7 linked regions of the Homo sapiens genome follow. The protein of the gene in region 3 purifies or fractionates together with the protein of the main gene of each other region. This does not show direct contact. Each region holds a gene or a part of one and is shown on either strand. Other genes may lie near its edges.

What was found.
Region 1: the proteins of DNAJB11 (region 3) and BORA purify together in Homo sapiens (affinity purification with mass spectrometry; 3 studies listed by BioGRID and IntAct, with this or other methods). This does not show direct contact.
Region 2: the proteins of DNAJB11 (region 3) and ROCK2 purify together in Homo sapiens (affinity purification with mass spectrometry; 4 studies listed by BioGRID and IntAct, with this or other methods). This does not show direct contact.
Region 4: the proteins of DNAJB11 (region 3) and DNAJC3 purify together in Homo sapiens (affinity purification with mass spectrometry; 3 studies listed by BioGRID and IntAct, with this or other methods). This does not show direct contact.
Region 5: the proteins of DNAJB11 (region 3) and SCCPDH purify together in Homo sapiens (affinity purification with mass spectrometry; 3 studies listed by BioGRID and IntAct, with this or other methods). This does not show direct contact.
Region 6: the proteins of DNAJB11 (region 3) and KCTD21 purify together in Homo sapiens (affinity purification with mass spectrometry; 4 studies listed by BioGRID and IntAct, with this or other methods). This does not show direct contact.
Region 7: the proteins of DNAJB11 (region 3) and ZNG1C purify together in Homo sapiens (affinity purification with mass spectrometry; 3 studies listed by BioGRID and IntAct, with this or other methods). This does not show direct contact.

What each region holds. Positions count from the first base shown.
Region 1 is NC_000013.11:72,748,423-72,751,922, reverse strand, and holds part of BORA (protein aurora borealis), read right to left. Parts: intron 1-3,500. UniProt on the Homo sapiens protein: Required for the activation of AURKA at the onset of mitosis.
Region 2 is NC_000002.12:11,208,637-11,212,136, forward strand, and holds part of ROCK2 (rho-associated protein kinase 2), read right to left. Parts: intron 3,205-3,500; coding exon 3,045-3,204; intron 1-3,044. UniProt on the Homo sapiens protein: Protein kinase which is a key regulator of actin cytoskeleton and cell polarity.
Region 3 is NC_000003.12:186,580,720-186,583,506, reverse strand, and holds part of DNAJB11 (dnaJ homolog subfamily B member 11 isoform 1 precursor), read right to left. Parts: intron 2,137-2,787; coding exon 1,994-2,136; intron 1,513-1,993; coding exon 1,430-1,512; intron 792-1,429; coding exon 734-791; intron 1-733. UniProt on the Homo sapiens protein: As a co-chaperone for HSPA5 it is required for proper folding, trafficking or degradation of proteins.
Region 4 is NC_000013.11:95,785,139-95,788,638, reverse strand, and holds part of DNAJC3 (dnaJ homolog subfamily C member 3 precursor), read right to left. Parts: intron 2,701-3,500; coding exon 2,568-2,700; intron 1,633-2,567; coding exon 1,484-1,632; intron 1-1,483. UniProt on the Homo sapiens protein: Involved in the unfolded protein response (UPR) during endoplasmic reticulum (ER) stress.
Region 5 is NC_000001.11:246,734,409-246,737,908, reverse strand, and holds part of SCCPDH (saccharopine dehydrogenase-like oxidoreductase), read right to left. Parts: intron 1,935-3,500; coding exon 1,854-1,934; intron 1-1,853.
Region 6 is NC_000011.10:78,175,127-78,178,626, reverse strand, and holds part of KCTD21 (BTB/POZ domain-containing protein KCTD21), read left to right. Parts: intron 1-641; exon of another isoform or gene 642-1,496; coding exon of another isoform or gene 1,497-1,575; intron 1,576-3,500. UniProt on the Homo sapiens protein: Probable substrate-specific adapter of a BCR (BTB-CUL3-RBX1) E3 ubiquitin-protein ligase complex mediating the ubiquitination and subsequent proteasomal degradation of target proteins. Promotes the ubiquitination of HDAC1.
Region 7 is NC_000009.12:68,293,983-68,297,258, reverse strand, and holds part of ZNG1C (zinc-regulated GTPase metalloprotein activator 1C), read right to left. Parts: intron 1-3,276.

The sequences.
Region 1 (3,500 bases), on a different chromosome or scaffold from region 3:
CAAAGGACCTTGCCTTCCATTACTACTTATGTTTTTGCTTTTATTATTATTTTAAACTGACACACAATTACACATATTTATGATGTACATGATATTTTGATATGTTTACAATATGTAATGATCAAATTGGGGTAATTAGCATATCCATTAACTCAAACATTTATCATTGCGTTGGGAACTTTCAAAATCTGCTCTTCAAGCTATTTGAAAATATACGATAAATTGTTAATTACACTCACCGTATAGAGCTATAGAACACTAGAATTACTCCTATCGAGCTGTACTTTTGTATCCATTAACCAACCTCTCCCTATCCCTGCTCCCCCTACCCTTCCCATCCTCTACTACCTACCACTATTCTATACTCTTCTATGAAATCAACCTTTTTAGCTTCCACATGAGGGAGTACATGTGGTATTTATCTTTCTGTGCCTGGCTTATTTCACTTAATGTCCTCCAGTTCATCCATGTTGCTGCAAATGTAAGGACTTCATTATTTTTTATGGCTGAATAGTATTCCATTGTGTATATATACCACATTTTCTTTATCCATTCATCTATTAGTGGACACTTAGGGTGATTCCATATTCTGGCTATTATGAATAGTGCAGCAATAAACACTGGAGTACAGGTATCTCTTTGACATACTGATTTCCTTTCCTTTGGATATATACCTACTAGTGGGATTGCTGGATCACATGGTAGTTCTATTTTTAGTTTTTTGAGGAACTTCCATAATAGCTGTACTAATTCATATTCCCACCAACAGTGTTCAGGCACTGTTTACTTATATTAATCACAATGATCATGCTAATATCCTGTAATCCTATTATTATCCCCATTTAAAGAAGAGGAAACAAGCTGAAAGAAACTGTCACTTTCTGGGATTTATAAAGCTAACAGAGCTGGGCTATAAACTGAAATCTGCCATTACGGTTTCCCAAGCCCATGTTCTTTAATGCCATGCTCGCGCCTCAACTAAATACATTTGCACCCACACCCATCCTGGCACCCTGCCCTCCTTTAAACATGGAGGAGTTACTGCGGCTACTCCTATCAGGGTTCTAGATTCTACCCCCTCTTGCATGCCTCAGTTCCCTCATTTATAAAACAGATCACCATTTGACAGATGACGATATCTATTATATCTGTAAGGTATTACAGGGATTAGCTTCTGACTGTAAAATGCTTGGCATGGTCTCTGGTACTTGAAAAGGACATGTGACTGATACCTATTAATAATTATATTAATAATTATGCTGCCCAACTCCTAGTTTTTAAAAATCTTCTCTCTCTTCATTTAAATGCTGTATGCTGTTTCTTCTGTGTTCCATTACTGGAACACTAAGCATGTGGGAGTTACTTATACCCTGTTGTTCAAGGTCATCGCCAAGGTCTGATTGCAAAAATTCAAAAAATTGCAACCTTAGGCATAAATGGGTTAAGTAAAAACAAAGTAAAAAAGCAAACTACAAAAAGATCTGACTTTGATGCTCTTCTCTAGGTATCATTTTCTTTCCCTTCACAACTAAACTCCAGAGTTATCTACACACGTTATTTCATTACTTCTTCTTTAACCTTCCTTCCATTCACCTTGAGGCTGTTCAGTTATTAATTACTTTTCTTATTAGTCCATTAGCCCCTTTTCAAGCCCAATGTTGCTTGCTCCTATTTTGGCAATGCTAACCATTCTTTCCTGCTTAAAATGCTTCATGACACTGTGCTTTCTAAGTGTCCCTTTCTCCTCTTTGGCTGGTTCTTTTCAGTCTCCTTCAGGGGCTGTACTTCCTTTACCTGATCCCTCTCAATTCTTCCTCAGAGTTCCAAATCCTGGCTCCCCGTTACTCTCAGTAAATACCATCCCTCTGGTTGAACTTAACCTACGTATTCGTTCTGTTTTTGTTACACAAATATTTAATGAGCGGCTATTACGTGACGGGTTCTTTTTAATAAGCACTGGGGATAAAAACATGCATGACTGCTGCATTAGTGGTCTGATTGGAAAGAATGCAAAATGTGCATGGAATCATGAAAGCATATAATGAGGTCTGGCCTGGCTAATGTGATCTGGGAAGGCTTGAGGATGTAATCAATAAGTTGTCAATGAAAAAAATAAATAGGAGTTAACTAAGTAAAATGGGATAGAAATGCTACATAGCATGTGCAAAAAGGCCCTGTAACAAGAGAAAACGTGGCTTTTTAAAACTTTGGAAAGCTAGTGGGACCTAAACAGAGAATGAAGGAAACAAGCTGGAGAGTAGAAAGACCAGCCTTGCCAGCCACATTGCAGACTTTTAAAATTAGTACCGAACGCATTTCAAAAGTGTAGAAAATAAAAAACTCAATAGAAAGGTTATTATATAAACTGGAGGAAATTGCCCAAAAATTCAAAAAAGGAGATTTAAAAAAAAAAAGATTTTTAGAAATTGGAGAATCAAAAGTTGCTCCAGAGAGAACACTAGAAGCAGCAGAGGAGAAATCTAAGATATTATTCAAGAAAAGATCCAAGAAGTGAGGGGAGTAAGTTTACAGACTGTAAGGGCATTCTGAGTGAAGAGTATAATGGATGGAAAGAAACCCGCATTAAAGGACATCACTGAAATTTCAGAACCCTGTAGACAAAGAAAAATGCCTATCCATGTCCAGGGAGTTGGGGATAAAAAGAGATCATAAACAAAAGATTAAGCACTGAAATAGCTTCAGATCTCTCACTGAAATGGAAGCAATGCCTTCAAACTCTGAAGGACATTTCTGAACTCTCAAATGTGAGAGACGGACACATGATCACACATGCAATGTCTTTAGAAATGTACTCTTCCTCAGAAAGCTAGCAGAAAGCTAACCATGTGGCAGAAATGTAATGTATGAAACATTTTTAGTAGACATTATGATGTTATGGCCCAGAGAGTAAAACTGAGACTGCTTGGGGGGTATCACATAACATATTTTTACCCAATAGAAGGAAGAGGTTGTAATAGTAAGAGAAGTTAAAAAATGAATGGAATAGCCCTGCAAGTGTAATTAAGCATAGATAGTTTGACAAGTTAGTAGTGACTACAATTATGGGAGAATATGCTACCCACGGCTTCCAAAGGTTAGTTGGATTAGATGATGATTAAGGTGTATTTCAACAAAAGTATTTTGTAATTCCTCTATATAAAAAAGAGAGAGAGAGAGAGAGAGAGAGAGAGAGAAAGTGAAAAAAGGCAGAGAGTAAAAGCAGCAAACAATGCCTTTAAGGCATATACTTTTAAGCCTATATGTGCTTTTTTCTATTTATGAAACCAACTTTAGAGAAGCTAAAATATGTAAAAGTGATTCTAGTATAATCTTTTTTGAGCAATGAAGCTGTAAGTCAGGATAGGCAACAGAAGCATAAAAATATGAGCAAAATACTATATTTAATTTTGGGTCATTTAGAATCCTTCCCTGAGTTTTAACTTCAGCATGCCAAAACTGACAACACTAAAGCCTTATAGAGTTGGTGTGAGAATTAAATG
Region 2 (3,500 bases), on a different chromosome or scaffold from region 3:
GCCCAGGCCGGAGTGCAGTGACGCAATCTCAGCTCTTTGTAACCTCCTGGATTCAAGCAATTCTCGTGCCTCGGCCTCCAGACATAACTCGGATTACAGGCGTGTGCCACCACACCCAGCTAAGTTTTGTATTTTTAGTAGAGATGGGGTTTTGCCATGTTGGCCAGGCTGGTCTCAAACTCCTGGCCTCATGCAATCCACCCGCCTCGGCCACCCAAAGTGCTGGAATTACAGGCATGAGCCACTGCACCTGGCCTTAATTTTCAATTTAATATTTTCACTTTCATACTTGAAAATTAGGAGTTTCATTCACAGGGTGTAAAAATGTATCACACTCTGCAATATTACATCTATTCTAATGGAAGCAAGATAGTTCTACCTTTATTTATATTCTACAAGATGCTTACATCTTTAAACAAAGGTTTCTTATATTCTACTGCTTACTGCTATTCTATGTCTCTCAGTGTTACTATTTTTACCTTAAAACAATCCAGGTAGATTCTATGATCTCCATAGGACTTTCCATGTTAACACATTATTATGCAGGTGTTGAAAAATATGTTTTAGGGAGGTGGTAAAGGACAAGACTCTGGAACCAAACTTTCTGAGCTTAAACCCTGGGTCTAACACTGTTTGACTGGGCAAGTAATTCACCTCTCTGGACCTGTTTCCTTATCTCCAGAATAGGGATAACAGCACCTAGGGAGGTTGTGAAGATTTAATACATGTGTACCACTTAAATGCTGCCTGGCATATGGCAAGCACTTGGTAAGTGCTTATTATTTAAGCAGAATTTTTAATGACCAAGGAAACGCTCACAATGTCTTGTTTTTTAAAAAGCAAAACGGTATAGAAAGTGGAGAAAATTTACAAAATAGTATCCTAACTCATAGGATTATGAGTAATCTTTGCTTTTTTCTTTATACTTTCCTGTGTTTTCTAAATTATTTACAATAAATTTTTAATCTATTTTACTTATCAGAAGGCAAAGTTCCAAGTGATTTCAGTGTTAAATGTAAGTCATCACAGTTAAAGGATTATCTTGATATACTGGTTAGTACTTCAGTTCACATTCAATTAAGGCTCCTCTGCTTTTTCATAATTAATGCTCAACATCTAATTATCATCTATTATAAAGTTGTATTAGGTAAAAATTAAACCTATGAATATTTAGTGTTTAATGAATGGTCTTCAAAAGTGCAGAAAAATGAAACATTCCCCATGTAGTACTAATAATAGCATTTCTAAACACTTTACATGTTTTATTGCACTTGATTTTCACAACAACGTAACAATACTGTAATTGTCCCTTCACAGGAAACAAGACACAGAAAGTTTAAATAACTAGACAAGGTCACATAGCTAGTAATTATTTGGTGAGCCATGTTCTTAATCCAAGGAGCCAATGACATGCAACAGAAGGACCAAAGGCTTTAGCCTCAGATTTGAAACCATCTATAATATGTAACAGTTTTGTGTACTCATGTGTAAAATATGGAAGTCATCATGTATCTTACATTAGCGTTTTAATAGTTTGAAAAAAATGGTAGTTAATACTGAATTGGTTCATTTTTATCAATTCAGAGAATAATCACTAAACAAATGTCCTCATTTAACAAAAAAAACAATCACCATAATGTAGGCATTGAGAATAGAAAGAGGCATTACTGAGATAATGAAAATAGTCCTTTTTTTTTTTTTGAGATGGGGTCTTGCTCTGCTACTGAGGCTCAAGTGCAGTGATGCAATCATGGCTCACTGCAGCCTTGAACTCCTGGGCTCAAGCAATGTTCCTGCATCATTGCAGGAATACTGAGAGTCCTACTCCCAAGTAGCTCTGACTATAGGCGCACGCGACTACATCCAGCTAATTTTTCTATTTTTTGTAGAGATAGGGTCTTGCTATGTTGCCCATGCCGGTCTCAAACTCCTGGGCTCAAGAGATCCTCCCACCCTGGCCTCCCAAAGTGCTAGGATTACAGATGTGAGCCACCATGCCTAGCCTGATATATTCTTTATCTTGTTTTGAACAGTAGTTATGTGAGCATATCACGAAATGTCAAAAATGTTTACATTTTATTATTGCATGTAAATTATACCTCAATGAAAATAATTGAACTCTGTCTTCTAGGCCACAGACAAGGAAATATGGCCCAGTAACTTTCTCCCTTACAATTAGATTTTTGTAAATAAAGTACTCATTTCATTTCTTATCATCCTGATTTAGTGCCTTAAACTACACTGATTTTTACTAAGAAAATCTACCATTTTAATTACATGCAATAATTAAAAGGCTATTTTTTCTAAGTTAGTTACTCATGTAATGCTTCAATATGAAAATAAATTTCTGTTCAAGAGTTTTAAGCCTTTCACAAGAATAGCTTAAAGTACTGATTTTCTCTGGAATTTCAGAGTCATTATAAACAGTCAGTTTGGAAAAGAAAAAATTATCCTAAGACAATTCCAGGATAAAGTCTAGTTTATGGGAAGGTTAACTTTGTTATCTATTAGTATTATATGGCTTCGACCAAATCTGGCTAGTATCTTCATCATGTTAGAGATCAAAATACTCAGTGAACTTATATTCTAGTTAGACCAGCTATTACTTTTAAATTCTTACCTTGCATAAACTGGCAAGAATTTTATAATACAAAACTCTTGTATTACAAGAATTACCTGTATCAATAGTAACAGGTATACAGCGTGTGAAGTTCAGATATTCCTTCTTACTACTGATACACGTATACCGAGTGGTACAGATATTACCAGGTATATAATATTGAGAAATATTAATTTATCTCTGATCTAAAAATCTGATCATGTAATTTTGTGTTTGGGTCTTACTATCTTAGAAATGATTACTGTAATGATACAAAGGAAAAATAATAGAATATCTATGTAAAGCTTCCCTAATAGTTTTTTTCCCTCCAATTCCCAATATTTGACAATGAAATATAAAAAAAAATGTTTCAAAACCAAAAAGCTAACACAGAATCAATTCTTAGGAAGACGCTGCTGGAAAACCCTCTTTAAAAAATGCATACCTTTCATGGCTTCTGATTTGGCTTCTTCGATGGACTCATAGATCTTATTTTTATCTGCTAGTCGTGCCTTTGTGGCCTTATGTTCAGCTTCTTCTTGTTCTAGGCTCTGCTGTATAACTTTTAGTTGGTATGTCATATCTATTTCCATGTTGCTTTTTTCCTATTAAATATTTAAAATGCAGCTATCAACAAAAAAGAGACTAGCTCACAATTTCAAAAGCTTTCTAATTTTTTTTTTTTTTTGAGACAGAGTCTTGCTCTGTTACCCAGGCTGAAGTGCAGTGGTTTGATTATGGCTCATTGCAGCCTCAACCTCCCCAGGCTCAAGCAATCCTCCCACCTTGGCCTCCAAAGTAGCTGGGACTATAGAAGTTTGTCACCACTCCTGGCTAATTTATTTTATTTTATTTTTAATGTAGAGACAAGGTCTCATTAAACACTGCCTACACTGATCTT
Region 3 (2,787 bases):
GGGAAGGGGAAATAGAGTGAGAAGGAATTCTGGCAAAGACAAGGAAGGTGTCAGGTTTATTCAGGAAACAACACATGTTCCAGTTTCTCTAAGAAGTGATGATAAAGACAAGGTAGGTAAAGAAGCTGGGGAAAACAACACTGAGATTAAAGAGTGCAGGAAGGCAAAGTCCCAGACAGTGGGGGGCCATTTCTCCATATTCTGGTGGGAACCCTGTTTTGATGACTCCTTACAAAGGCAGAGATATTACTGGTTTCCAAAGTGGTAACAAGAGAGCAACAGTAATCAAGAAAGCTGGAGTCCCAGGCAAAACTGTCTAAGCAGCACTTCATGCTGAAGAGAAGCTCACAAAAGAAAAGCTCTCTTTACAGAAGCTGCATATTATGTAGAAGGTTCTGTCTATGGAAAAGTCTCCTATTCTTGTATGGTGCCATACTTCTTCAGCTAAAATCTCAGCTTTGACTCCCTATCTTGTTTGTTTCTCTTTTATAACTCCTTACTTATCAATTATTTCCTTTCAACATCTTTTGCATTTTTAAGTCCTAAGTAAATAAATAACTGGGGCTCAATCCTAGGGCCCAACCCCAAGTTTTCAGCCTTGTAGAGGAGTTACAAATCATCGTTTAGGGTAATAAGGGTAAGAAACAGAGAAAAAAGTCTAACTGCTCTGGTGGCCACCTACGTCTCTATAATTTGACTCATCTGAGAAGACCTCTAAAATTAGATTACTTACTTGACAACTTTGATTCGGAACCGTAAATCTCCAGGCTCCCCATCCACGTGAGGCTCACCTAGTCAGAGCAGATTACAGCATATTGTAAATCATACAAGTTGAATACCACAAATCTATTTGGCAACTGATACATTTTTTTAATCCACTACTTTGGGCATTGACCTGTCAAATCTGTGACGGCAGTGTCTCTGCCTGGTTGTATCAAGTTTCAGATTATTAGAAATCATCACCTTTGCCTCAGATACAGCAGTACATAACTTGACCCATTTCCTAAACAAAGAATGATACACTGGTCTCCTGAACCTAAGTCTTAAAGCTTTTTTTATTTTTAGAGTTTTAAACTTAAGTCTAAAGGTGAGGTCCTGAGAGCATCTTATTAATGCCAACTAGAGTTACATATCTTCTTTCATTGCTGAATTAAAACTCATTAAGGTCTGAACACCCTAAATTTTGATGAAACTTAGGCTACCTCATAATAACTTTTGGCCATGACATTCAAAGGATAAACGGTAATGCTACTGCTTCAGGTAAACAAAAGGCTTTGTATATCCTAAAATTGGCCGAAGAGTGTTGGAAATTATATATGCGTTTACTATGTGAACATTAAGATGGAGTAAGGCAGGGGTGAAAGGTATTCACAAACAAGCAGAGAGCAAAAAGTTATCACAATCAAAAAATCAAATATCAATATTTCACCTTCTCCAATAAAGGGGTACTCCATGCCGTCTCTCACCCCAGGCTCTATTTCTACTTCCAGCGTTCGTTCTTCATTCACTAGTCTGAGGTAAAGAGAATTAAAAGAGGAGAAAAATAATGAAAATATAAACAAAACATCAGATATAGATAAAGTTATACCTATTTTATCAGAGCTTTTTCTTGGAAGACTGTAGTGTGCCTCTACTTGACAAAACTATCTGATAATCATTTACATCTTCTATATGCTAAAATCCAGGGTGAAGCTACTATACATTTATAAACATATAAGGCTGCTCTAATAGTACAAGAAGGAAGAAAATGAAGCATTAATACTTGTTGAAAATGTATCAGAAATAAAGGGCACTGCTTGTTAGTTCAGAAACATAAAAGGAGATATTTACAAATACTTCAGAAAAAAATGTACATTGTTTTGCTCTATCCTTTTGCAGAACATGGCAGTGGGGAGGGGACAGAGAAAGATCTAGTATGGACCATTAGTGTTTGACTAGATGAACGAAATTAACAAGTGTTTCTTGGTAGAACAAAGAAGGTGCTTTCACTTACTTGACATTAGGGCATTCGTCGCAGACCACCTCCTGGGTCATTTGGAAGCGCCCAGGGCCCAGCTGGGTGGTCCGCATCTCTTGCCGACAATTGCACTTCCGTTTGCCAGGAGCCTGCCTTGCCACAGGTTTGTTTCTAACTACCTAGGAAGTGCATAAACAACATCAGCTTCTCTCTTGTGTAAAACAGCCTTTCCTTTCCTCAATTGATCAAGGCTCTGCACATATGCCTGGACTGAAACTTCCCCTTCTCTGGCAATCTATCCCTCAGAGATCTAAAGCTGACAAAACTCTTTGAAGAGTACAAATCAGCCCCCAAACAGGAATGAAGCAAACACATACTTAAATGACTCAAATTCTAAAGCTGGAGAAGTAGAGACGGGAGTAAGAAACAAGAGAACCGAAAAATAAAGTGTATGATATCAGCATTTCTAAGCCACAACTAAATGCTACTGAGTTAAAGTACTTCATGTAATGATTATCTTTTAGGAAATCCGAGCTGTGTAAAGCATAACCCCTGAGGAACAATCACTACCTTCAAAACCTGGTATGTGGCTACTATCCAATCCTCTGGTTAACCTACTGAAAATGTCTCCTTATTTCAGGAAATGCAATCCAGGACTATTTTCTGGAGCTATCTCCATTCAGATACTTTAACATGTAGGAAGAGAAACAATGACCATCTCTTTGTAGTTGACTGCAATCAAACATTCTGATCCCTCTAAGAATGTAAAATTGATATATATGCAGAAATGTATTCCTAGTTTTGCCTGTTTAAATAGTCAAACATCTAAT
Region 4 (3,500 bases), on a different chromosome or scaffold from region 3:
AACCATTTTTCAATGAGAAAAAACTATAGCCAAGATTTATTTCAAGTGAAAATTAAGTTTCAGATTGGCATACATCATGTGATTCTACTAAACATATTCCTAAATATGACACGTCTTGATATATGCATAGTAAAAAACTTTAAAGTCTTTAAAAGAAAAGATAGTTCATCCTGAACAGAAGAACAGGAGGTAAGAAAAAGGACCTGCAGCTCTTTCCTCAGTGCATGCCTCTGTGCAGGGACACCCATCCCCTTGGTTGGCTCCCTGGTACCTTAAAACGTAGCACAAAGTCCCTCTCACATAAGAAGATCCTGACTCCCAGTCTGATACACTATCACACCTGTGCACTGCACAAACTAAGAGGATTGAACTGCTTAAGGCAGGTTGTAGCCACTCAGTATTTGCTAAGTAACAGGACAGTATGTATCCAACACTACTTGATAAGGGAAGTACATTTCTGTCTCCTTTACTGGATTATAAATTACTTGAAAACGAAGGATCATTTACTTTCAATTCCACTGCAAGTACATTTCTGTCTCCTTTACTGGATTATAAATTACTTGAAAACAAAGGATCATTTACTTTCAATTCCACTGCATAAGTAAGTACTCAAAAAAGATTTGACAAACATAAAACTTTCCTCTCTTTTGTTTGTTTAGCTCAGATCACAGCTGCTGTTCCCACTGACATGGAAGGCCACAAAAAAGCAGTATAAGCTTAACATGAAATTCTCTGGCAGCAGCAAAGCATTGTTCAGTATTACCTCAATGCTTAGCCTGTCTCCCTCTTAACGAAATTTCCAGGCCATATTACTGTATGGCAAAAGAACACATGTGGCCAGGTGCAGAGGCTCACACCTGTAATCTCAGAACTTTGGGAAGATCACTTTAGCCCAGGAGTTAAAGACCAGCCTGGGCAACACAGTGAGATCCCATTTCTACAAAAAATAAAAATTAAAAAAAAAAAAAACACATATAAGCCTGTGAATCTAATGATCCTATGATTCAGGGCAAGATTCCTGGTGAACACATATGGGGCAAAGCAGGCCCTAGGCCAGACAGCTGTTCTTCTCCCACTCCATGTAATCCAGCCTGGCAAGCTGGTTTCCTCATCAAGCTCCTGTAAGCTTGGTGGAGAAAATTCATCATTGACCTTTGAGGTTAGAGGGAACCTGAGAGATCCTCTTATGCTCAGTGTTGAAAAAACTGAGACCAAAAAGTTCTGATAACTTCTTTGAGTAGAAAAAAGATTCAAATTCAGGCCCTCTGATTCCACATTTGATAGTCTTTCCACTGTACCCTGCAACAGGAGGGTGCCCAACATAAGAGGGCTGAATGAGGGCAGGCATAAAACTGGACCTCTGGAACTGGGCTCAGGACCCGTCACTGCCTATACAGCCCCACGTGGAGAACCCACCACATGTTCCACCCTCGCTTCTAACACCACCTCTAGGATGAGTCAAAGGAATAAAAGCTAATAATACCTGGATCAGAGAGGACTTCTTTAGCAGCTGCTATATCAATGAACTTTTTCTCAGCTTTTTTCTTTTCTTCTTCATTCTGGAAGTTATCTGGGTGCCACTGCAGTGCTAATTTTCGGTATGCTTTAATAATTTCTTGCTTTTTGGCATTTCTGAGGGGTGGTAAAATAAATAATCATTAGTGGAAAAGTGTCTAACATACTATCATAAAAATCAGAAGAGCTGATTAAGATCCTACTGGCAATTAACAAAACTGGTTTTATAAAATAGTTCCAATGGTATCACAGGCCAAAGATCTGCATACACAGTTCTGGATGATCATTAAAGCTGACATCAGGCTTCCTTGGATACTCGCTCACTAAGATTACTGAGAATAAAGCACTCCTGATCTTTAGAACTTTCCCTTTTTTAAAAAAGGTACATCAATGAATTTTTTAACTTTCTGAATTTCCAAGTTACCATAATTCAATTCTTGGTATTAAAAAATATTTGACTCTGAATGCCACTTTCAATTATGCTTCTGCATTAGCTTACTTAATAGTAAGCACAAAGATTCCAAATTTTGAAAAATTGATGGTTTACTCAGCGAACCACTGGGAGGTATATCATTTACTTAATTTCAGAATTCACCCACAGGCACTGGGAGGTGTATCATTTACTTAGTATGTACTTTTATATAAGGTAGATCTTAATTTCAGACTTAATTCTGAAAGCACTACTTTATTTTTAGGCCTAGAGAAGGCTTTTTCTTTACTCATTCCGTCTCCTCCTCCATCCCCACCAAAAGGAATCTCACTCCTACCCCTTTACCCTTCTTAAAAAATCTAGGCTTAGGACCCATTCATGCTACAGTGTCATCTTTGTTGCCAACTACTAATTCTGTTGTTGCATTATTGGTCTCTATCAAAGAAACTTGCCTATAAAATACTCAAAGTAGCTTTCTAATGTTAAAGACTGTTAAGGTTTAATCCATATGACTGAAATTACATAAGTAAAGAAAATGAATCAGAGAGGAAAAAGAGCAATGATTAGCTTTGAAACAGAGTTGATTAAAAATAGCAAAGTAAATTTTAAATTAATAATTCACCTTTTTACTCCCAAGATTTTATAATAATCTCGTTTCTGCGACTGTTTCAATAATCTTTGTGCTTTCTCTAGACCTTCTCGAATCTGCTGATCATTTTCATTGTGTTCCTGAGCAGTTTCATAATCCTGAATAGCTGTCAAAATATGTTTAAGATAATATTGTTAAGGCAAATTATAATTTATTGCCTTTTCTTATCCTGTAAAATTGATGCTAAAGTCGTCATCCCCCAACCCCTTCACTCTTTGGCCATTATTGCCAAAAACCTTAAGTGATACCCCGTTAGTAACTTTGATCAAGAATATTTAAGAGGCCGGGCACAGGGGCTCATGCCTGTGATCCCATCACTTTGGGAGGTCGAGGTGGGCGGATCATGAGGGTCAGGAGTTCAAAACCAGCCTGGCCAACACAATGAAACCCCGTCTCTACTAAAAAAAAAAACACAAAAATTAGCCGGGCATGGTGGTGCACGCCTGTAGTCCCAGCTACTCGGGAGGCTGAGGCAGGAAAACCGCTTGAACTTGGGAGGCGGAGGTTTGCAGTGGCCGACATCGCACCACTGCACTCCAGCCTGGGTGACAGAGTGAGATTCCGTCTCAAAAAAAAAAAAAAAAAAAAAAAAGGTTTAAAAGGCATAATAATGAAAACTGAGTTTAGGTAGTTTATTATTCTCATTCAACAAAATGTACTGCTGTTTACTTGCCCACCCTCCCGCATTATCTCCCCATACCCTCTGGGTAAATATGTTAATATCAGCACTTTATCCAGAGCAATCTTACCACCATTAAGACTAAGTGGTTGTTACACAGGAAAGAAAGACAGTGATAAAGAAAATCGGCCTGGTCAGCTATGGATTGACAACAGTCCAGAAGAATTAGACATTTAGAAAGGGATCAGGAGGTGGGTTTGGCCAATGGGAAGCTAGAAAAAAAAAAT
Region 5 (3,500 bases), on a different chromosome or scaffold from region 3:
TTAGGTTTTGATATTATGGCTGGGCGTGGTGGCTCATGCCTGTAATCCCAGCATTCTGGGAGGCCGATGCAGGTGGATCACTTGAGGCCAGGAGTTCAAGACCAAGCTGGCCAACACGGTGAAACCCTGTCACTACTAAAAATACAAAAATTAGTCAGGTGTGGTGGTGTGCACCTGTACCCCCAGCTACTCAGGAGGTTGAGGCAGGAGAATCGCTTGAACCCAGGTGGCAGAGGTTACAGTGAGCCAAGATCGTAGCACTGCACTCCAGCCTGGGTGAGAGAGAGAGACCCTGTATCAAAAAAAAAGGGGGGGGTTCGATACTACTTTTATGATAGTTTCTAGATGACTTAAAAGCTTTTCACCATTTTCTATGTTCTGGGTTATTTAAAATAACATGGGAATTGTTTTTTGTTTTTGTTTTTTGGAGACAGGGTCTCACTATGTTGCCCAGGCTGGAGTGCAGTGGCATGATCATAGCTCATTGCAGCCTTGACCTCCCAGGCTCAAGTGATATTCCTGTCTCATTCTCCTGAGTAGGTGGGACCACAGGTGTGTGCTACCAACTCCTGGCTAATTTGTTAACTCACCAGCTCAAGTCATCCTCCCACCTAGCCTCCCAAAGTGCTGGGGTAACAGGCGTGAGCCACCTCGCCTGGGCTTTTTTTTTTTTTTAATTTGTTTCCTCCTTTTTGAATCAATTTTTGTAATTTACACTGTCTCAGTATTTTCCAGTATTTTACCAATTGATAAACTGCAAATGCATATTAATATCATATTGGCATGCTGATGATGATAATCAGTAGTTACTACAGAGACACATGAGGTTACCATTTTAAAGGCTGTAGTAGAGCTTAATGCCTGTTAACACATAACTTCCTGTGGTCAGGCAAACCTCAATTGAAGACCTAGTTCTTCTACTTACTAGGTGCATTACTAGGTGCATTACTAGGTGCATTACTGAGTGAGTTACTTAAGCTTCCTAAGCTTTAATTTCCTCATCTACAAAAAATGGAGGAAGATAACTACCCTATAGGTATATTTTTAAAAAGTTACATAAAACACTTAGCACAATGTTGGGCATATGGTAAGCATTCAATAAATGTGAACATTTAAAATGTTTAGGTTGATTTTACACTAGTGAATTTTACCTTTATTTTTCTGTAATGTTATAAAGGTAACTGAATTTTCTTTTTTTTTTTGAGACAGAGTCTCGCTCTCGCTCTGTGGCGCAGGCTGGAGTGCAGTGGAGTGATCTCGGCTCACTGCAAGCTCCACCTCCTAGGTTCACCCCATTCTCCCACCTCAGCCTCCCAAGAAGCTGGGATGACAGGTGCCCGCCACCATGCCCGGCTCACTTTTTGTATTTTTAGTAGACATGGGGTTTCACCGTGTTGGCCAGGATGGTCTCGATCTCCTGACCTCATGATCTGCCCGCCTTGGCCTCCCAAAGTGCTGGGAGTGCAGGTGTGAGCCACCGTGCCCGGCCTAAAGGTACCTGATTTTTAAAAGGGAATTCAAAATGAAAACATGACAGAATTGAGATTCTAAGAATTATGCACAGTCCGCTATTTTAATTGATTCAGTTTAAAGCATGAAGTAGCTATAATAAGCACAGACCTATAAGAAATGATGTTGTAGGGAGGGAAAAAATTCAGAAAACTGAAGCTAAGACCTTACCATCAGCGCTCTCCTTTGAGCTATCAATGGAATACCACACGAATACCATATCTGAATGCTAGAAAGGAGTTGTCGGCTTCTAAATATGTCTGCAAAATTACACTAAATATTTCCACTTCATTAAACCGAAATTTATGTGTTAATTCTACGTTTTTCCTTTTTATTTTTTATACCTGAGGTTCTCCACTGATGTCGATACAACTGGCTCCATTTTCAATACATGCTTTTATTACAGGTTCTCCATAAAACCGATACTAGGGAAACAAAAAGAACAAAGAGGTTATTCTTGCTTGACAAGTTTAAATGAATAAAATGCCATCTAATCCTGGAAGTAAACAGTCCTAGTTATCAAGAAATCAACTGTTAATAAAATAGCCTAAAGATAAATTCAGAAAGTGGCCAGGCACAGTGGCTCACACCTGTAATCCCAGAACTTTGGGAGGCCGAGGCAGGTAGATCACTTGAGGTCAGGAGTTCAAGACCAGCCTGGCCAACATGGTGAAACCCCATCTCGACTAAAAATACAAAAATTAGCCGGGCGTGGTGGCACACACCTGTAATCCCAGCTACTCGGGAGGCTGAGGCAGGAGAATGGTTTGAACCTGGAAGGTGGAGATTACAGTGAGCCAAGATCGTGCCACTGCACTCCAGCCTGGGCGACAGAGTGAGACTCCGTCTCAGAAACAAAAAGATAAACTGAGAAGATACCTGCACAATACCATCTCTCACAGTGTGAATAAATAAAGGCATGATGGAATTACAGAGCAATGTATGCTTACCTCTACCTGAAGACAAAAGGAAAAGTTTCATACAAGTGATTCCCTTGAGTTGAACCCTAAAGAACAAATAAAAATTTTCCAGGAAAAAGAAAAATCCAGATACAGGAAAAAGTAAATGCAGAGGTTAAGAAAAAGGAGCTGTTCCTGTTGCTTGAAGCAGGAATCAAATTCACTTGAGTAGGAAGTAGAAAGAGATGGGTCTGAAAAGGCAGGCTACGGCCACATCAGGAAGGACCACATGTGCCATGCTAACAAGTTTCAACTTTATCCTTTCTAGTTTACTTGGCTTTCCAGAAGAATTTTAAACAGGATAGTGGTATAAGACTTATAGCACAGACGATATACTAAAGATGAGACATACAATACTAAAAAGGTGGAAATGACTGGATTTCCTGACTAGCTGGGCTGGACATGGGGGCCAAGAACCAGTGGTATTATTGGTCAAAATTAAAAACAAACCAACAGGAAGAAGAGAGTTTGCAAAGGATAAGTTTGATACTGAACAGAGCAGATATTCTGAGCCTGTATGATATTAGATTTCCCATATTATCTGTTATTCAAACTCAAGGAATTAAAATACAAATTTTCATATGTAAAAGCTAATACATCAGAATTCAGTCCCATTTCCAAAGAAGCATGACAAATCTTTTCCTTTGTGAAGAAGTAGATTAGAAGCACAAACTCCTCTGCTTTATTCATTCCTGGCAGCAAAAGATGGAACAAGGAAATCGTTTCTTTCTTCCAGCCTTTGAGGAACAAGGGACACTTAAAAGACACAATCGACCTTTACAAATAGGTCAGATGGGCTGCCCTCTTACCTAACTCCAAGACCTCACACCTCTTACTAAGAATGGCGGATAACACTGGAATTACAGGACTGGGAGAAGTGTGTGAAATTCGAGTTCCTACCCTCCCATTAACAAACCACATGAAATTAATGAAGAACTCTACTTCTGAGGCAGTATGGTATCATGGAACAAAGGATTTCAAGGCAGTAAGACCCAAGTTCACACCTGGAATCCATCACCTACTAACTATATG
Region 6 (3,500 bases), on a different chromosome or scaffold from region 3:
TCCAAGTGGAGGTGGCCAGGAGGCATCTGGGAACACATAGGGGACTGAGGCTCAGTGGTGTTAGTTCATTACTACCTGACTGCAAACCTCCGCCGACTCATGAAACTCCCCTCGTGTCATGTCATTTTGCCTTTTGTAGCAGGGCCGTGGATTTGTGATGATGGACACTGTGGCCCTGTGGCTAGAAAATAGGGGCTTAGACCAGGCACGGTGGCTCACGCCTGTAATCCCAGCACTTTGGGAGGCCGAGGCGGGCAGATCACAAAGTCAAGAGATCGAGACCATCCTGGCCAACATGGTGAAATCCCATCTCTACTAAAAATACAAAAATAAATTAGCCGGGCCTGGTGGCGTGCACCTGTAATTGCAGCTACCCGGGAGGCTGAGGCAGGAGTGTCGCTTGAATCTGGGAGGCAGAGGTTGCAGTGAGCTGAGATTGCGTCACTGCACTCTAGCCTGGCGACAGAGCGAGACTCCATCTCAAAAAAAAAAAAAGAAAAGAAGGGCTTAGAGGACTGAGCTCTGTGACTGGATAGGTAAGGGGAGATCACCACAGAGAGCACCCTAGACTCGGAGCAGGAGACCTGCCTGCTAGCCAGCCTCTGCCCTGACTGCCTGTGCAACTGTGCTGCTCTCCCCAGACAAATGACCGGGAGCCATGACGTCATCGGGGGCGCAGGAAAGCAGGTGCTCTGCTGCTTTTGCAAGCAGAGAAATAAGAGTTTGGGCACCTACCCAGGGGTCCCAGGGAATGCCCTGTGGCTCCTGACCTCCCCCGCCTGTAATGCTCTGAGCACTTCAGCAGTAATGCATGGAAGAGATAAGGGTCTGTGACCCATGGAACTGTCCAAGTCCTCTCTGACACCCGCTTCTTTTCCTGCCGTGAAGGTAAGCCACTTTATAGATCCTAGGCCTGAAACCCAATGTTGGGAGGGAGTGTTTGTTTTCAAGAAGAAAGAGAGACTGAAACTAGAACATGCACATTTCTATCCAGAAGAAAACAGTTGGAGTAGACTAGAGTCCTACAAAGAGGGCAACAGGGAAGAAGATTCTGGACTGAGTAAAGGGGACCCACTCCTGGGTCCACCTCCTGCCTGGGCCCTCTGGAGAGAGAATTGGCCAGATTCAGCCCTGAGTCACAGCACCCTCCCCAGTTGCTGCCTCACAGCCATCTCCACACCAGCAGCCATGCCCCCAGCGGCAGCTCGCCCACACCTCTGTGGGACCTCCCCACCGTCTCGCAGCCCATCTGCTCCAGGCTTCTACTGACGATTTCGTATTTCACATGGACTCATTTCTCCTCAGACACTCCAGATGGGGAATGCCTTTCTGCAATATCAAAGTGCCCCATTAGACTGGGGAGGAATCATGAGGGGACATACCCCTGCCCCTGCCACAGAGTCGAGCATGGCAGCTGAATATCTCTCACACTGGCATGGCCCCCATCCTCTGGAGAAAGGAGGCCTCAGTGCAGTCAGCCTCTTCAGGAGGCAGAAATGTTGAGAAGTTCTCGCCACCCCTGCTGGGTGACTTTGGGGAGGTGTCTCCTCAGACCTCTGTTTCTCCATCTGGACGGTAAGCATGCTTGAAAGGTTGGGTTTTTGTTTGTTTTTTGAGACCGGATCTCCCTCTGTCTGCCAGGCTGGAGTTCTGTGGCGTAATCACGGCTCACTGCAGCCTCAACCTCCCAGACTCAAGCGATCCTCCCACCTCAGCCTCCCAAGTAGTTGGGACTACAGGTGCTCGCCACCACACCCTGCTTTGTTGTTGTTGTTGTTGTTGTTGTTGTTGTTGTTGTAGAGACAGGATTTCGTCATGTTGGCCAGGCTGGCCTTGAACTCCTGAGCTCAAACGATCTGCCCACCTCGGCCTCCCAAAGTGCTGGAATTACAGGCATGAGCCACTGTGTCTGCCAGCCAGATAGTTTTTGATGTGCCAAGGTTCATTCCAGACCATCTCCCACATCTTCTACCTGTCTTGTCACTGTGCCTTTACTCTCTCATCTCCTCTACCAGCACAGGCTCTTCTGGGGGTAATACTGGGGCCAGTTCCTCTTGGCATCCCTACCTGCCATGTCAGGGAAGGATTGCTGAATCTGGTCCACAGGTTGGCTCTGGGGAAAGTATAGTGTTGGAAGCTGGAGCTGAGATCTCCTGTTTTCTAGAACATGTGGTGAAGGAGACTTGCCAGCCATAGATGCTGACAGCTGAGAGATTAGGGGGGCTTTGTTAAGGAGTGGATAGGGTGCCTTCAGGAGAGTGCTCTGACAGAGTCCTGCATTTGCACTGACCTTGCAGCCAGTTTCAGAGAAGCTTGGGGTGTTATGACAGCAAAGGACAGGCCACCAGGAGCCAAGAGCATCTTCATGGCAAGGCAAGTCAGCATGGGAGCAGTGAAAGTCTAGAAAGGATTGTCATTCACATGCACACGTATGTTTATTGCGGCACTATTCACAGTAGCAAAGACTTGGAACCAACCCAAATGTCCAACAATGATAGACTGGATTAAGAAAATGTGGCACATATACACCATGGAATACTATGCAGCCATAAAAAATGATGAGTTCATGTCCTTTGTAGGGACATGGATGAAATTGGAAATAATCATTCTCAGTAAAGACTACTGCAAGGACAAAAAACCAAACACCGCATGTTCTCACTCATAGGTGGGAATTGAACAATGAGAACACATGGACACAGGAAGGGGAACATCACACTCTGGGGACTGTTGTGGGGTAGGGGGAGGGGAGAGGGATAGCATTAGGAGATATACCTAATGCTAAATGACGAGTTAATGGGTGCAGCACACCAGCATGGCGCATGTATACATATGTAACTAACCTGCACATTGTGCACATGTACCCTAAAACTTTAATAATAATAAAATTTAAAAAAATTTAAAAAAAACAGGATTGTCATTTGCAGTCCGGACAGCTGAGTGACCCACTGTGGGCCTTGAAGATAGATGGAAATGACACTAATCATGGCCATTCATTGTCAAATCTTTGAGAGAGAATAATAATTAAATTCAGCAGTGTCACTGGTACAGAAGGAGGAGCACTGAGCCTGGAGTCATAAATCTCAAACCATTTGTTGAGTACTTAGAACCGATCTTTGGCTAGTAAGCATTTACACATTTTTCTTTCATATAAAAGGACCTGAGTTTGAATCCTGGCAAGGCACTTCACCTTTCTGAGCTTGAGGAATGAATCCTGGCACAGTTTTCCTCATCTGCACAACAGGAATGGATGATTATATTGTCTGTGTCAAAAGATGATACAACCTTTTTTTTTTTTTTTTTTTTGAGACAGAGTTTCACTCTTGTTGTCCAGGCTGGAGTGCAGTTGTTCAGTCCCGGCTCACTGCAACCTCCACCTCCTGAGTTCAAATGATTCTCCTGCCCCAGCCTCCTGAACAGCTGGGATTACAGGCACCCACCACCATGCCCAGCTAATTTTTGTATTTTTAGTAGAGATGGGGTTTCACCATGTTGGCCAGTCT
Region 7 (3,276 bases), on a different chromosome or scaffold from region 3:
GTAACACATACAATGTACTCACTACACAGGGCCAGGTACTTTTGCCTGAGTCACCTCATTGTATCTTTTGACTTACTCTTCACAACAATCCTGGGGAGTGAAGATAACTATTTCATTTTATAAATTGGGGAAAATAAGGGTCAAAAAAATAAGCTACCCAGAGCCAGGAATAAAACTCAAAACCAAAGTAAATTTGTTCTCTTAAAAAAAAAATACAAAAGAAAGGCTTGGCTTATCTTTAACTGAATAAGCATGTGCCAAGAGGAGAAGAGTTCTTAGCGATGAGAATGATAGGATAATGCCCTCTTTGGCTTTAGTAAGGGTGACATCATCATGTATTGAATATTAACTTTAGGATTTATTTTTCTTCTTTATCTTGATAAATCTCTCACTGTCTACCCTAAAGAAACAGAAGCTTAACATTTCCTCTAACAGGTCACCTAATTAAAACCCAAACCTCCCTTTGCCAATATAACCCCAAATTTCAAACTCAGAGATGAAAATACACAAGGGCTAAGCATAACATTATAAAAACATACACCCCACCTTGGAAAATAGAGGCTCAAAAGCCAAGCTCAAAATGAATTTAAAAAGGTAGAAAATAATATACTAAAGCACATCTTTGCATAACTTCCTAGAACTGCGTATCTGGCCTAGCAATTTTACTCACCATTACATAATCATACAGGCTTACAGCAGAAAATACAAAAAGACCAAAAACTATTTTATAATCCAAACTCAAGAGAATCGCTAAAGTATTAAAGACCAATTTAGGCAGAAACATATGAGACATTTCTTTCTTTCCATAGGTTACTGGGGAACAGGTGGTGTTGGTTAACTTCTTTAGTGGTGATTTGTGAGATTTTGGTACACCCATCACCTGAGCAGTATACACTGCACCCAATTTTTGTCTTTTATTCCTCATCCCCTTCCCACCCTTTCTCCCTGAGTCCCCAAAGTTTATTGTGTCATTCTTATGCCTTTGCATCCTCATAGCTTAGCTCCCACTTATGAGTGAGAACATAGCGATGTTTGGTTTTCCATTCCTGAGTTCTTTCACTTAGAATAATAGTCTCCAATCTTATCCAGGTCACTGTGAATGCCATTAATTCACTCCTTTTTATGGCTGAGGAGTATTCCATTGTATGTATATATATCACAGTTACTTTATCCACGCATTGATTGATGGGCATTTGGGTTGGTTCCACGTTTTTGCAATTGCGAATTGTGCTGCTATAAACATGCGTGTGCACGTATCTTTTTTGTATAATGACTTCTTTTCCTCTGGGTGGATATCTAGTAGTGGGATTGCTGGACCAAATGGTAGTTCTACTTTTAGTTCTTTAAGGAATCTCCACACTGTTTTCCATAGTGGTTGTACTAGTTTACATTCCCACCAGCAGTGTAGAAGTGTTCCGTGTTCACCACATCCATGCCAACATCTACTATTTTTTTGATTTTTTTATTATGGCCATTCTTGCAGAAGTAAGGTGGTATCGCACTGTGGTTTTGATTTGCATTTCCCTGATCATTAGTGATGTTGAGCATTTTTCCATATGTTTATTGGCCATTTGTATATCTTCTTTTAAGAATTGTCTATTCATGTCCTTAGCCCACTTTTTGATGGGACTGCTTTTCTTGCTGATTTGTTGGAGTTCATTGTAGATTCTGGATATTTGTTCTTTTTCAGATGTATATATTATGAAAGATTTTCTCCTTCTCTGTGGGTTGTCTGTTTACTCTGCTGACTTTTCCTTTTGCTCTGCAAAAGTTCTTTAGTTTAATTAAGTCCCAGCTATTTATCTTTGTTTTTATTGCATTTGCTTTTGGGTTCATGAAATCCTTGCCTAAGCCAATGTCTAGAATGATTTTTCCAATGGTATCTTTTAGAATTTTTATAGTTTCAGGTCTTAGATTTAAGTCTTTAATTTATCTTGGGTTGATTTTTGTATACAGTGAGAGAGGAGGATCCAGTTTCATTCTCCTACATGTGGCTAGCCAATTATCCCAGCACCATTTGTTGAAAAGGGTATCCTTTTTCCACTTTACGTTTTTGTTTGCTTTGTTGAAGATCAGTTGGCTGTAAGTATTTGGGTTTATTTCTGGGTTCTCTATTCTGTTCCATTGGTCCATGTGCCTATTTTTATAACCGTACCATGCTGTTTTGGTGACTATGGCCTTATAGTATAAGTTTGAAATCAGGTAATGTGATGCCTTCAGATTTGTTCTTTTTGCTTAGTCTTGCTTTGGCTACGCACATGTGTATGTTAAACCATCCCTGCATCCCTGGTATGAAACCCCTTGATCATGGTGGATTATCTTTTTGATATGTTGTTGGAATCAGTTAGCTAGAATTTTCTTAAGGATTTTAGCATCTATGTTCAAGGATATTGGTCTGTAGTTTTCTTCTTTGGTTATGTCCTTTCCTGGTTTTGGTATTAGGGTGATACTGGCTTCATAGAATGATTTAGGGAGGATTCCTTCTTTCTCTCTCTTGTGGAATAGTGTCTTTAAGACTGGTACCAATTCTTCTTTGAATATCTGGTGGAATTCTGTTGTGAATCCGTCTAGTCCTGGACATTTTTTTGTTGGTAATTTTTTAATTACCATTTCAATCTCCCTGCTTGTTACTGGTCTGTTCAGGGTAATTCTTCCTGATTTAAGCTAGGAGGGTTGTATCTTTCCAGGAATTTATCCATCTATTTTAGGTTTTCTAGTTTATGCATGTAAAGGTGTTCATGGTAGCCTTGAATATCTTTTGTATTTCTGTGGTGTCAGTTGTAATATCTCCCGTTTCATTTCTTATTGAGCTTATTTGGATTTTCTCTCTTTTCTTGGCTAATCTTGCTAACGGTCTATCAATTTTATTTATCTTTTCAAAGAACCAGCTTTTTGTTTCATTTATCTTTTGGATTTTTTTGTTGTTTTGTTTCAATTTCATTTAATTCCGCTCTGATCTTCTTTCTTCTGCTGGGTTTGTTCTTGTTTCTCTAGTTCTTTGAGATGTGACCTTAGATTGTCTGTGCTCTTTCCAACTTTTTGATGTAGGCATTTAGGGCTATGAACTTTCCTCTTAGCACCACCTTTGCTGTATCCCAGAGGTTGATAGGTTGTGTCACTATTGTCATTCAGTTTGAGGAATTTTTACATTTCCATCTTGATTTCATCTTTGACCCAAAGATCATCCAGGAGCAGGTTATTCCATGTATCTGCATGGTTTTGAAGGTTCCTTTTGGAGTTGATTTCCAGTTTTATTCCACTGTGGTCTGAGAAAGT